Linked DNA regions of Homo sapiens. The protein of the gene in region 2 interacts with the protein of the main gene of each other region in a pairwise test. Each region holds a gene or a part of one and is shown on either strand. Other genes may lie near its edges.

Region 1 (7,028 bases), on a different chromosome or scaffold from region 2:
CCTTACAAGTACTGTGTATCCACAGCATAATTATTTAACATATTGAGGAATTTCTAGTCAATGGCAGTTAGATATAGAATTGTCATTGCCTTTCAGCATTAATCAGAATTGTGACTGTGAAATCATCACTGTTTTATATGCCATATCTGACATCCACAAATCAATAATAAAGGAATTGCCTGAATATTTTGTGTTTCTTTTGGGGGATGAAAAGTCCCCACAGTGATATATGGCATATGCAATAAATTCTGGTACTTCCATCGCTATACAGAAAATATTATTGAGTACAGCATTTCATGGGGGAATAGTATCATTTGTTTCTTCATTCATGAGAATGAGTTAGGTGAACCATTTCACAAAAGAAGTGGGTTTTTCTTCAGAAATACTGGTAAAGAACATAGGTGGAACCAAACATGCAATTCATTATATGAACACTGTTGACTTTGCTTTGAAGCAAGAGCTGCCTTGTGCAGCATATATTCCTTTACTCCTTGTAAAAGATTTTTGCAGCTGGATATAATTCCGTTGCATTGATGGAGCAACAGAATAAATTATTACATAATTTAATTCAAAAAGAAATATTTCTTTCTAAAGAAAAAAGTGTACTGATGATTGCTTTTTATTTTATTTTACTTATTTTTTTTTGAGACAGGGTCTCACTCTGTCAGCCAGGCTGGAGTGCAGTGGCACAATCTGGGCTCACTGCAACCTCTGCCTCCCGAGTTCAAGCGATCCTCTCACCTCAGTCTCGTGAATATCTGAGCCTACAGACATGCATCACCACGCCCAGCTAATTTTTTGTATTTTTAGTAGAGACGGGGTTTCACCATGTTGCTCAGGCTGGTCTTAAACTCCCGTGCTTAAGCGATCCTCCCACCTCAGCCTCCCAAAGTGCTAGGATCAGGGGCATGAGCCACTGCGCCCAGCAAAATGAAATACAGCATTCTAACTTAGAAATGCCCTGTTGTTAAAAAAAATTTAAGAAAATTTAGTTTTAGTAAAATATTTTATAGATGACCAAAATTAGCTAAATCACATTCCTGAAAGTTACACCTAGGAAAGCAGTTTAAAATCATAATGTAAAATCAAGCTTACTCATTTTATTCTTCTGTAACTGTGTTTAGAAGTTAGACTATAATAGGATTTTATTCCTAATGACATTATTTTTTACTTATTCTCTAAGAAAGTTTAAATATATCAGACATTTTAATTTACCTCATTAATCTTCATTATCCCATGTGGGGAAGTTAATGCCAAGCATCATTTATTTAATATAATAAAATGAAAATAAAGTAAAAGCATTGCCTTCTTAAAATCCCACCACAAATAAAAGCAAGCCAGGTGTGGTCTCTGCCTTATTAAGCTGATGTTAGTTCTTGTTTTAAAATCTTACATAATATAAAAGAAGAATATAATATCAGAAGTATTTAATGATTTAGGAAAGATCTATCAAACTTTCTCAAATAGATATATCAAGAATAGATGGAAAAAATACCACTGCTTTTTTGGACGTAATTTTCCCTGTACTAAGTTGTTTGTATATGCATTAAAAATACACATTTAATATTTGTTCTGTTACAAGGTTTTGCATTAATCATCCTATTTTCTGTTTAAGGGTGTTGTGATTTTGAAGTTTATCTGTTCTGGATTTAAACAACAATAGCAACAACAAAGTTTTCATTTCCATTTGACTTAAGTCTAAAATATCTTTTCTTCCTTTGGATTAGAAACTTTTTTAAAAAATTGCTCCAAAGAAAGAAATGTTCTCTCTTCTTTTGTCCCCTGGGTAGTGCCTATGATCAGAAGCCACAAGTGGGAATGAGGCCCTCCAACCCCCCCACACCATCCAGCACGCCAGTGTCCCCACTGCATCATGCATCTCCAAACTCAACTCATACACCGAAACCTGACCGGGCCTTCCCAGCTCACCTCCCTCCATCGCAGTCCATACCAGATAGCAGCTACCCCATGGACCACAGGTAACCTGCAGATACCAGTTTTCTAGAAACTGTTTTTTGCGTTCTTGGAAAAAATTTCTATTAACAATTCTGAAGGCCTAGAGTAGATTTAAGGTGAGCCTATTAATTTTGCACATCTGTGCAAAATATTTTTAGAAAGAGCTCACTCTATCTATACTTATAATTTGTGGAGAAAGTCATTTATAAACATTCCTTTTATAAACATTTAAATTGGTTGCTAAAATGGAAAATTAATCTATCTACTGACATTTGAGCATTTCCCTTTCGCTTTGCTTGAATTAAATTGCTTCACTTAAACTTTAAATCAGATCATCCCATTTTTATGAGCATATGTGTGTACTTGTTCTGTAAAGTTAGGAGACTAATTTTAGTAGGTAGCTTATGGAATTAGGTTTTCTACCTTATATTGAATGGTTCAGCTGTACATAGTTTTGCAGAATATAACTTATTTGATTAAAACTGTTGACCATCTTTTCCAGGTGATTAATATTTAATATCAGTAGACGCATGACTCTGGACACTGCGAATATACAATTAAAGAGATAGAGACTCAATTAGTATTACTTAGAAAGGAGCAAGGCAAGAAGCATAGCATAGATCTAAGGAGAATACTGCGTTAGGTAATTCATGACTCCTTGAGATTAAGAAATTCATATTTAAGTAAAATACTAAATAAAACCTGTAGAGGTTCTGAGATGTACTACCTTAATATACAGCTTAAAATCAGGTTGCTTATATACAGCATCTCTCCTTCTTTATCTCTTCTGCCCTGTGCTTCTGTATGCAGTGGCGTGCTGGTAAATGTTTAGCAACAGCCTGCATGAGAGAAAAACAAAACGCCCTCATCAGTAGCTTTTGCTGGGTCTGTGATGTACATATTGCTTTCATGGCCCACTACGAGCCATCACTGTGAGAACCCTGAATGCCGAGTTGCAAAGATGCAATAGCACAGCGTAATGTAGTATTTCTAGCATACGGATACCAGAGACATAAGTAACCTCAGGTGTATAATTGGTAATGAAATGTAGTAAGATAATTAGAAAGTGATGAGTTTTGCATTTTTATCTTCTGTTTTTAACATATTTTTTGATTGTGAAGTTATATAATTTAACTGTTAATAGTGGCTGTGTTTAAGAACTGGCTCAAAAAATTCCTGCAAGTTTGACAATAAGTCAGTGCAAACTGGCCCTGAGACACCGTTGTAAAAATAACTCAGCCAAAGGAATCTTCTAGATCAGCAGAGGAAAGCAGAAGATGTGCCACTGGCAACTTTCTGAAAATAAGGGAGCACTCAAATGTGCTTTTTATAGGTTTTTTCATGGGACTCAATCTCAAATTCAGAAACTCATTTTGCTATAAAGGGCGTAAGATGAAAGCGTTCTTTACAATGTGATACAAAGCCTTGTCTTTTCCACCCTTGGTTCCATCACTAAGTCCTCTTGTGGGGTAGTTATTAAATGCTTCCTATTATCTTTTTCTTCTCACCCTGTAGCCTTGAGACTTTGTCAGAGTGCAATGGTATGTGCATCTGTGTAAACAGTTTTGTAAATACAGATGAAAGAATTCTTATTGCAGGGTGGGCCATTAAACAGATGGACATTGTGCAGAGCTGAAAGGGAACAAAAAAATATGAACAAACCAAGTTTTATTTTCTCCACTACTGGTGACTTCTGAGTTCTTGATAACTGAATCTCACTCTTCTGATCAGTGCCAGAATTATAGATTGTATAATTCGCTTTTTGTGCAAACTGGTTATTTCTTAGGGAAGGTGCCTGCTGAATAAGCAGTGTGCCTGGTTTTAGGTGACCTAACTTGAAATGCTTTAGCCAAATTCATTTTAGTTTCTCTACTTGAAGTCAGATATTTGAGACTGAGAACAGCCGGCCCGGAACTCCAAGAGGGAAGCTCGGGGTCTTTTCCCACTGACCCCTGACTGAGTTTTGAGGACAGTACCAGCTGGCCAGTCCCAGGAAAATCTCTAAAGCCGTATGTTTCTGAGGAGGATTTCTTAGAGGGCTCTGGCCAACAAATGACAGTCCCTCAGTTATAAATGGCAAATTTGCTCTGGGAACAGATCCTTTCCCCAAAACACCCCCTCCAGCCAGGCACCCCACTTCACTCTGGGAATGCTTTACGGCCAACTGGCCTGCACCCTGCTTCCTTTCCTCAGCCTCACTCTGCTCCTGGGGCCAGCCCTTTGGCACTTTTTCCTGAACCCACTGTGCAGGAGCCCTGTCTCTCTTTCTCAGTGTTTCCACCACTTACACCCTGTTTTTCTTTATCTGGGAGTTCATCAGCATGTTCTCCTTATCTGTTAACTCCTTTCCAGAAGCTTCTTGAATCACTTTCTCTTTACCATTGGTCAGTGGCTCCTAAGAATTGCACCAAAACCTTGCAAATTCCTGAGAAGCATGCGTGTTTGATATATACATGTTCCCCAGCAACTTCCAACTGGAATCAGGTCGACTCGTAAAAACAAATGGCTTGATTCCTTACAAAGCTTTCAGTTACAAGTATTATTAACTTCCTTTTAAGGCTTCACAAGTGAGCCAGTTTCTTATTTTAACTTCAAGTTACAATTTTCTGATTCACTCCTTGACAGTTCTTAATGATAATTTCTGTTTCTTTTTTTGGCTAATGAAATAAGCAAGAGAAGGGAAATGAATGCAGTGCCAGTCAGCCTAACTGCTCTGCAATATCCGAGTTTCTAAGTTTATTTTCTGCAGGTGTAGGTGGAATTTCAGTGCTTTCCATGACCACCAGTGAGCCTAGAGTTAAATCACAGGATGGAGTGTTCTTAGAAATGCTAAAGCAATCGCTTTGCCATTCTTTAGCTTTTACCTTATTTTTATTTAACATTACCGAAATTAAATGCTAACTTTCCAAATTAAAGTCTCAGGAATGCTTTTAGTGGGGGGGTTATTAGGCTTATATTTGCTCATAGAAATGTTTTATAGGTTATTTTTAAGCACTCCTGGGGCATTTTTAGAGCACTTTTAAATCTTTAATTAATCCACATCTTTGTGGTGGGTCAATGATATTATGGATGAGAAACACAGAACAGAACGATTATGTGATTAGCCAATTGTTATAAAGTATAACCAAGAACAAAGAGGCATAGGACTCATTTCTAGCCTTCTGCTGAGGCCTCAGAACTTCCTCATGTCCTAACAGCGGGACTTGCCCCAAACCTATACAACACTATATGTTATTTTCACCTTTGGAGATCAGCTGTGCATTTATGCTTATTTTTATCAACCTGATACTGTATTTGAATCTATTGGAAGCCAATATGGTCTGCATTGCTGTTTGACAGTAAAGAGGTAGTCTTTTTACAACCGGCTTGGGTTTGAGTCCTTATAATACCTAGTTTTGTTTCTTACTAGAACGCAATGTTAATTAGGACATTGTTGAGGAATTGAAAGTCCTGATTTGAGAAAAAAGTCATTCCTCTCTTGCTTTCTCAGCAGGTTTTTGGTTGGTTGGTTTTTTGTTTATTGATCAGTTTGGTAACAGAATTAAAAGATAGAGGATGCAGTTTGAGATCTTTTTCTGGTATATAATGATTTAAGAATCTTGTGTGGAAATTATCCGTGATCCAATTGATTTAGAACTAGGCATTTTAGCCATTAATCGTTGTGTGTGTGTGTGTGTGTGTGTGTGGGTGTGTAAAATCCTCAAAGTTTTTCATTGCTCTCCAATCCTTACTCAAAGTACATCTTTAACTCATATACTGCAACAGTGCTGCAAAAGACTGATTAGAAAGGGAATATAAGTCATATGATTAAAAAACATAGAGCTACTAATCCAGGAAAGAAAAACGTAATGCTTGTTAAAGATTTACGCTTCAGGTCAGCTGGTATCATGTTCGTTCACTAAGAAATGGAAAACCGTATCCGTATTTTAAAGAATGTTCCATGTTACCGTTTCATCTGAAACACACTCTCTTATTCCCTAGATTTCGCCGCCAGCTTTCTGAACCCTGTAACTCCTTTCCTCCTTTGCCGACGATGCCAAGGGAAGGACGTCCTATGTACCAACGCCAGATGTCTGAGCCAAACATCCCCTTCCCACCACAAGGCTTTAAGCAGGAGTACCACGACCCAGTGTATGAACACAACACCATGGTTGGCAGTGCGGCCAGCCAAAGCTTTCCCCCTCCTCTGATGATTAAACAGGAACCCAGAGATTTTGCATATGACTCAGGTAGGCCTGCGCTCTGCGCAAATTACATTCAAGGCACTTTTTCACCTCCCTTGTCACATTGGTTAGTGTTGGTATCAGACTAGGTAGCTCCTGACCATTTTTTAATAAGATCTTTCAGATTTTGTCCGTTCATTGAAACTTCATCTACGTGTAAAGATTTGAACTATCAGGTCATTTTGACATGAGGTGATGGTTGAAATAGTGTCTGGAAACAAAACCAGTTTAAAGAAAAATACACTTTACAGAATTATGCACAGTCTCAGCTCGAGAGGGACATTGCAATTTTTTTTCTTAATTCTGTACTTTTTTTTCTTCTTATTTTGCTACTACAGTGCTACTTAATAAAAATGTTTACAGAAAGTAATATTCTTCTGAACTAGGTCACATGTTGCTTATAACATTTAAGAAAAAATTACTGGGGTCCCGGTGCAGTGGATCACGCCTGTAATCCCAGCACTTTGGGAGGCTGAGACCGAGATCGAGGCCACCCTGGCTAACACGGTGAAACCCCATCTCTACTAAAAGTACAAAAAATTAGCCAGGCATGGTGGCACGTGCCTGTAGTCCCAGCTACTCGGGAGGCTGAGGCAAGAGAATCGCTTGAACCCGGGAGGCAGAGGTTGCAGTGAGCCGAGATCGCACCACTGCACTCCAGCCTGGGTGACAGAGAGAGACTCCGTCTCAAAAATCTCAAAAAAAAAAAAATATATATTGGTGGCAAAGATTCTAAGTGTTCGTAAGTAAGAATTCTTACATATTAAGAGGGGAATAACAGATTATTCGTAGAGTTTAGCTTTGTCTCTGTGAGCTAGAAAGTAGTACAAAGCAGCGGGTCAAGTGGGG
Region 2 (7,028 bases):
ACATGCCTGTAGAGCCAGCTACTAGGAAGATGAGGGAGGAGGATCCCTTGGGCCCAGAAGTTCGAGGATGCAGTAAGCAGTGTGATGGTGCCACTGTACTCCAGCTTGGGCGAGACAGCAAGACCACCTCTTTTGAAAAAAAGAAAGGAAACAGGCCTCAGAAGAAACCGAATCTGCCTACACATTGTTTTGTACTTCTAGTCTCTAGACCTATGAGAAAATAAATTTCTGTTGTTTAAGCCACCTAGTCTGTTGTATTTTGTTACGGCAGCCCAAGCAAACCAATACACTGTGATATGAAAACCAGAAAAAAATTAAAAGAAATTCACAGACCAGTATCACTCACTAATAAAGGTCCAAAAAATCCTTTTAAACAATTACCCAATCAAATAAATCCATTAACGTACGTTCTTTAAATAGGGCATATAAATTTAAAAGATGTAAAAGTATATTCATATACAGATAACATGACTGTTTTCTTACAAATCCTATAGGTTCTACCAAAAAATTATTAGAACTAGTAAGTAAACTTAAAATTTCATAAAATACAAGGTCAACATAAAAAAAGTGTATTTACATACTAGCAACAATTAGAAATCGAAATTAAAAGAACAACATTTAGAACACCATCAAAAACATAAAATACTTAGGGGTAAATTTTAAAAATATGGTGAAAAACCTCAACTGAAAAGCATAAACACTGCTAAGAGAAATTACAGAGGACCTAAATAATTGGAGAAATATACTATGTTCATGATTCAAAAGATAATATTAAGATGTCATCTTCCCAAATGAAATCACAGATTCAAAGTAACCAACATTAAAATCCTACATCCTTTTTTATAGAAATTGGCACGCTAATCCTAAGATTTATGTGGAAATGCAAAGAACATAAATAATCAAAACAACTTTGAAATAAAGGATAAAAATTACACTACCTGATTTCAAGATGTACTATAATAATACCATAATCAAAACAGTGTGGCACTTGTGTAGGGATAAACATATATACACCAACGGGACAGAATAAAAATTGCAGAAATAAACTCATATATATGGTTAATTTTTGAGAAAGGTGCCAAGAAAATTCAATGAACAGAGATGATCTTTTCAACAAATGATGTTATAATATTAATGAAGCCTTCAACCCTTACCAAACACAGTGTATAAAAACTAACTTGAAGTGGATCATAACCATAAGAAAACTATAAATCTTCTAGTAGAAAATATACAAGAGAATGTTTTCTAATTTCATGTTAGATAACTTCTTAGCTAGAACACAAAAATTAAAAATAATAAAAATCAATTTGGACTTAAAACTGAAAACTTTATCGATACATTAGAAAAAAGAAAAAACTTTTGCACTTTAAAAAATTATTAAGAAAATGAAAAGATAAGCAACAGACTAAGAGAAAATACCACAATACACAGGTCTGACAAAAGATGTATGCAGAATACATAAAGAACACTTACAACGCAAGATGACATGCAATTTTAAGGGAAAAAATGGGCCAAAGATCAAAACAGACATTTCACAAAAGATATGCAAATGAAAAATAAGCACATAAAAATATGTTACATAACAATGTGATAAAACTACATATCCACAAAAATGACTAATATTTAAAAGACTGAAAACACTGAGCACTGGCAAGGATGTGAAACAATTAAAAACAAATAAAACAATACAAGAAATAAATACAAACCAAATAAAAGAACTTTTAATTGTTGCTGGTAGAAATGCAAAATGGTGGCCGGGTGTGGTGGCTCACACCTGTAATCCCAGCACTTTGGGAGGCCGAGGCGTGGGGACCATGAGGTCCAGGGATCGAGACCAACCCGGCCAACACAGTGAAACCCCATCTCTACTAAAAATACAAAAAATTAGCTTGGCATGGTGGCGGGCGCCTGTAATCCTAGCTACTCGGGAGGTTAAGGCAGGAGAATTGCTTGAACCCAGGAGGCAGAGGTTGCACCAAGCTGAGATCGTGCCACTGCACTCCAGCTGGGGCGACAGTATGAGACTCCCATCTCAAAAAAAGATAAAAAAGAAATGCAAAATGGTAGAGGCAGTTTTTAAAAAGTTTTGCAGTTTATTTTAAAACTAAACATACACTTGGCAGAGAACTCAGCAATTCACTACTAGATATTTTTACCCTAAAAATGTGAAGACGTGTCTGCACAAAAACCTGAATGCTTACAGAATTTTCTAAATAATAGCCAAAAACTAGAAACAAGTCAAAAATCTTTTAACTAGCAAATATATAAGCAGTTCATGTTATATCCATATAATGGGATAATACTAAGCAATTAAAAGAAAAAAAACAGTACACTCAACATCATCAGTGTATTTCAAAACATTATACCAAACGAAAGAAACCAGACACAAAAGACTACCGACTAAAGGACTCCATTAATATGAAATTCCAGAAAAGGCAAAATGACAGCAATGCAAAGCAGATCACTGGTTGCCAGGTGTTAGGTGTGAAGGTAGACACAGAGTATGAAGTGCTGGCAAAAGTGAACTTTCTGGAAATGTATCATATCTTCATTAGGGTGGTGACTGCACAGGTGTATTCATGTGTCAAAACTCATTCAACTACACACTTATGACCAGTGACTTATTTTATGCAAATTATAACTTAGTAAAGCTAATTTTAAACAAAATCAGCCTCTAAATAAAGGCAAGGAAATGGGTGGTTAACTTGGGTAACCATTTGTAATAGTGGTTAAGAACCTGACCTCTGAGCCAAATTGTCTGAATATAAATACTGGTACCACCATTATTAACCGTGTAACTGAGACAAGTTATATAACCTCTATGGGCCACATTTCCTCATCTACAAAATGGGAACTATAAGAGTATCTACAGCAAACAGTTGTTGTGAAGATTAAACAAGTAACGTAAAACCTTTAAAATAGTGCCTGGCAAATAGCAATTTATATTTGAGCACTTATTATTATGAGTATTTGTCCCAAACTAATTGTCAGTACAACACATTCCATCTTCACTTGAGTGGACTTGGCATTTATGAACGTTTGAGTTTCAAATATCTAAAAGAACCCCCAAAACAGTCGTAATTTTTACAAAGCCTACTTTGTCTCATTATCTCTATTTAGAGCCAAATGCCCATCTGTGAATTAATACTAAAGACAGAGGATTCCAATGCACTAGACACTTGAGCATGGATCATGTGTTCCAATTCTGAATTTGGGGAAAAAATGTACCACCCCAAACCACACAGATTAGGAAAGAAGGATGGATTCCCAATGGTTACACCAGAAATACAATAAACAGAAATCAGATCACCTACTGCATTCTATGTTTCACTTTATATAGAAACAGAGGCAAAATCAGTTCATAAAACTTAATTGTGAAAAATGAAAGGACAACTAACATATTTTAAGTATAAAGAAAAACATGTTACTCTCAGTGAATATATTGTTTGAGAAAGTACCAACCTATCTGAATAGAACTTGGCTCATACACACATAAAGAAAGAGGACAAAGAACAAGTAAGGTGGAGGGCAAAGACAAGTCTGCACAAAAACCTGAATGCTTACAGAATTTTGTCCTACATACAACATCACATATAAAAACAGATCAAGAACTTTAAAAACAATTTAGCAGAGTTTCACTACATTGCCCAGGATGGACTCAAACTCCTGGAGCTGAGACTACAAGCATGCACCATCATGCCCAACTTAAAAAACATTTTATTTGGTATACAGGTTGAATATCCCTAATCTGAAAATCTGAAATCCAAAATCATGCAAAATCAAAAATTTTTTCAGTGCCAACATGACTATCAGAGGAAATGCTCACTGGAGCATTTTGGATTTCAGATTTTTCAGATTAAGGATACTAACCTGGTAAATATAATTTAAATATTCTAAAATTCGAAAACAAAAACCAAAAAAACCCCTAAAATCCAAAACACTTCTGGTCTCAAGCACTTCAGATAGAGGATACTCACCCTGTAATACAAATTTTAACAGGAAAAAGACGATGGGCTAATTCCACCGTCAAAAAAGCCTTTCCTCCCAAGCTGTGGAAGTTTTCTGAGGAAAAGGGTAGCAGGTTAAAATAATTATATAAAATATGAAAAAATCACCATTAAGAAAAAACATACACATACAAGAAGGAAAAGTAAGCAACAAGGTTTAAGGCTACAGTTACTTTAATCAGTAACAGTTCTTAGATGGAACATATCCACCTATGTAATGTTGGCTCATTATCAGAAAAGGTATAAAGATTTGTAAAAGGAAAAGATAACTGCTTATCAACACATTCTTTAGTAATGAACTACTATTGCACAAGTACCTTCTTCTCAATTTATAGACTACAATTCCAAGTTAATAGTCTTCCTATCCTGTTTCATGATCATCTATTTTCTCTACCATTTAATTCACCCATAGAAGTCTCCTGCTACCATTGATGCTGATGCCCCACCATCTGATAGTCCACAGGTCTGACAGTACCAATAGGTCTGATAAAATATGACATCATCTCCTGCAGAGTATGTTTCATCATTGACATCCAAATGGCACATGTATTATAAAGCAAAAGAAGCATCAAGTTTGACTTTTGCAGATTCAAATAAGTTCTTGACAGATATTACTATAATAATATAATAAATGCTGGTTTATTCCAGTAACTGAACATGCTTTTAACAGCTCTTTAAATTATATTTAGTCCTATATTTATAAGCTCACAATGGTCTAAAAAGAAAAGTCACTTAAACTTTCCACTTTCCTATCAGAGGAAATTCAGTCCTATAATTCAGTGACTTTAAAAAAAATTTTACCAGTGTACCCAGTGAGAAATACATTCCACATACATTGCTGCACAAACTGTTACTGTCTTTATTACGACAGATTCTATGATACGTTCTAGTTCACTTTTTTTTTTTTTTTTTTTTTGGAGACAGGGTCTCACTTTGTCGTCCAGGCTGGAGTGCAGTGGTGTGATCATAGCTCCCTGCAGCCTCGACCTCACAGGCTCAAGTGATCCTCCCATCTCAGCTTCTTGAGTAGCTGGGACTACAGGCACAAGCCACCACACAGGCTAATTTTTGTATTTTTTGTAGAGATGGGGTTTCGTCATGTTGCCCAGGATGGTCTCAAACTCCTGGGTTCAAGTAATCCTCCTGCCCTGGCCTACCAAAGGGCTGGGATTACAGGCGTGAACCAAGGTGCCCACCCTCACTTTTTAATAGTCTGAAAAACAGAGCCACGTGTTTTTCAGACTATTAAAAATATCCTGGGATTACAGGTGGTGGCACCCGTCTCTAATCCCCGCTGCTTGAGAGGCTAAGACATGAAGATTGCTTGAGCCCAGGAGTTTGAGACTAGCCTGGGCAACATAGGGAGAGCCCTGTCTCAAAAAAAGGAAAAAAAAAATTGGAAACCAGTTATATTAACAAGAATGGTCAACAGGCTTCATTTTTAGTGCTAAAATGTAATTAATAGGTAATGGCTATATATTGTACTATGCATAGTCCATTAGAGTATTTAACATCTGCCATGGCACTAAGAAAAAGGAATGGTACTAACATCTGTCATGACACTAAGAGAGGCAATGATACCAGGTTATGATATTATAATTACACAGTTAAAAGCCATTCTTCGAATTAAATCATGAGCTCCTTAAGAAGAGAGAATCTTAGTTTAACACAAAATAGGCAGTCACATATTTACTGAATGGTAGATCTATTTAATGTAGATCCTAACTATTTTCTATCAAGCAGATGATTAAAAGTCAACCTTCTCGGCCGGGCGCGGTGGCTCACGCCTGTAATCCCAGCACTTTGGGAGGCAGAGGCGGGCGGATCATGAGGTCAGGAGATCGAGACCATCCTGGCTAACACAGTGAAACCCCGCCTCTACTAAAAATACAAAAAATTAGCCGGGCGGGGTGGCCGGCGCCTGTAGTCCCAGCTACTCGGGAGGCTGAGGCAGGAGAATGGCGTGAACCCGGGAGGCGGAGCTTGCAGTGAGCCGAGATCGCACCACTGCACTCCAGCCTGGGCAGCAGAGCGAGACTCCGTCTCAAAAAAAAAGAAAAAAAGTCAACCTTCTCATAAAGAGCTTACTATCTACATGCAAACGTATACTTCTGCTGCAAGAATGGCTGGGACTTGCAGAGGTAGAAAACTTCATTTGAGATAGCTGGAAAAGCTAATACAAAGGCAGTAGTTATAGAATTGTTTAAAAAAGGAGTCCGTATAAAAAACAGAAGTCATCTTTCAAATACAGACCAGACTCACAGTCTAGTTAAATGAACCGTAAGAAAATTTTGCAAAAAACAAAATAACAAAGACTTCCTCTGAATGTTGAAAATGTATCCAATGTCAAGCTAAATACTACTGTCCTGTATTAGATTCTCCATCAATAAAACACTGTTAAAATTATTCAACTTGATAATACCTTCAATCTTTTGTGTAAAATAAAATATAAAAATGCAACCTAAACCCCTAAAATGTTTATGAATTCTTCAATTAAATATAAACTTACTTTCAAATATAAGTCAGGAGAGGCCAATGTTTATTACTGAAATTAGGTACGTGACTATTTAAATCAACAGTTCTCAAGGAGGGGAGAAGGACAGGTCCCTATCACCAGGGGAGCATATGCAAATTACACCACCCACCCCAGCCTCCAATTCAGGTACGTCTTCTTGGGATGTGGGCAGGTAAGAAAAGGGAGTGGTGAGGGATAAAACATTTATCTCATATGATTATGAAACAGCTGCTTCTCCTCCAATCTGTGCCGTTTAAGAACCACTGGGCTAAATACATGTACTCGAACTTACAGATCTGAAACTCTCTAATTGCACACAAAGAAAACACAAAGTTGAGAACTGGGAAATCTGAGTTCTCATTTTGTCCTTACCTGTCCAACGACAAACAAAATTACTTCTCTGTGCCTCAATGAGAAAATAATTAGTATTGTATTAAAAATAAGTTATATATAACATCACAGAATTGTTCTAAGGATAAAATAAAACGTGAAGCATAAGCATATCT

The links. Proteins that work in one complex are often made in the same cells at the same time.
Region 1: the proteins of COP1 (region 2) and ETV1 interact in binary tests that used the Homo sapiens proteins (3 or more experiments, as listed by UniProt).

Annotation. Positions count from the first base shown.
Region 1 is NC_000007.14:13,930,659-13,937,686, reverse strand, and holds part of ETV1 (ETS translocation variant 1), read left to right. Parts: intron 1-1,790; coding exon 1,791-1,979; intron 1,980-5,937; coding exon 5,938-6,185; intron 6,186-7,028. UniProt on the Homo sapiens protein: Transcriptional activator that binds to DNA sequences containing the consensus pentanucleotide 5'-CGGA[AT]-3'. Required for olfactory dopaminergic neuron differentiation; may directly activate expression of tyrosine hydroxylase (TH).
Region 2 is NC_000001.11:176,197,284-176,204,311, forward strand, and holds part of COP1 (E3 ubiquitin-protein ligase COP1), read right to left. Parts: intron 1-7,028. UniProt on the Homo sapiens protein: E3 ubiquitin-protein ligase that mediates ubiquitination and subsequent proteasomal degradation of target proteins.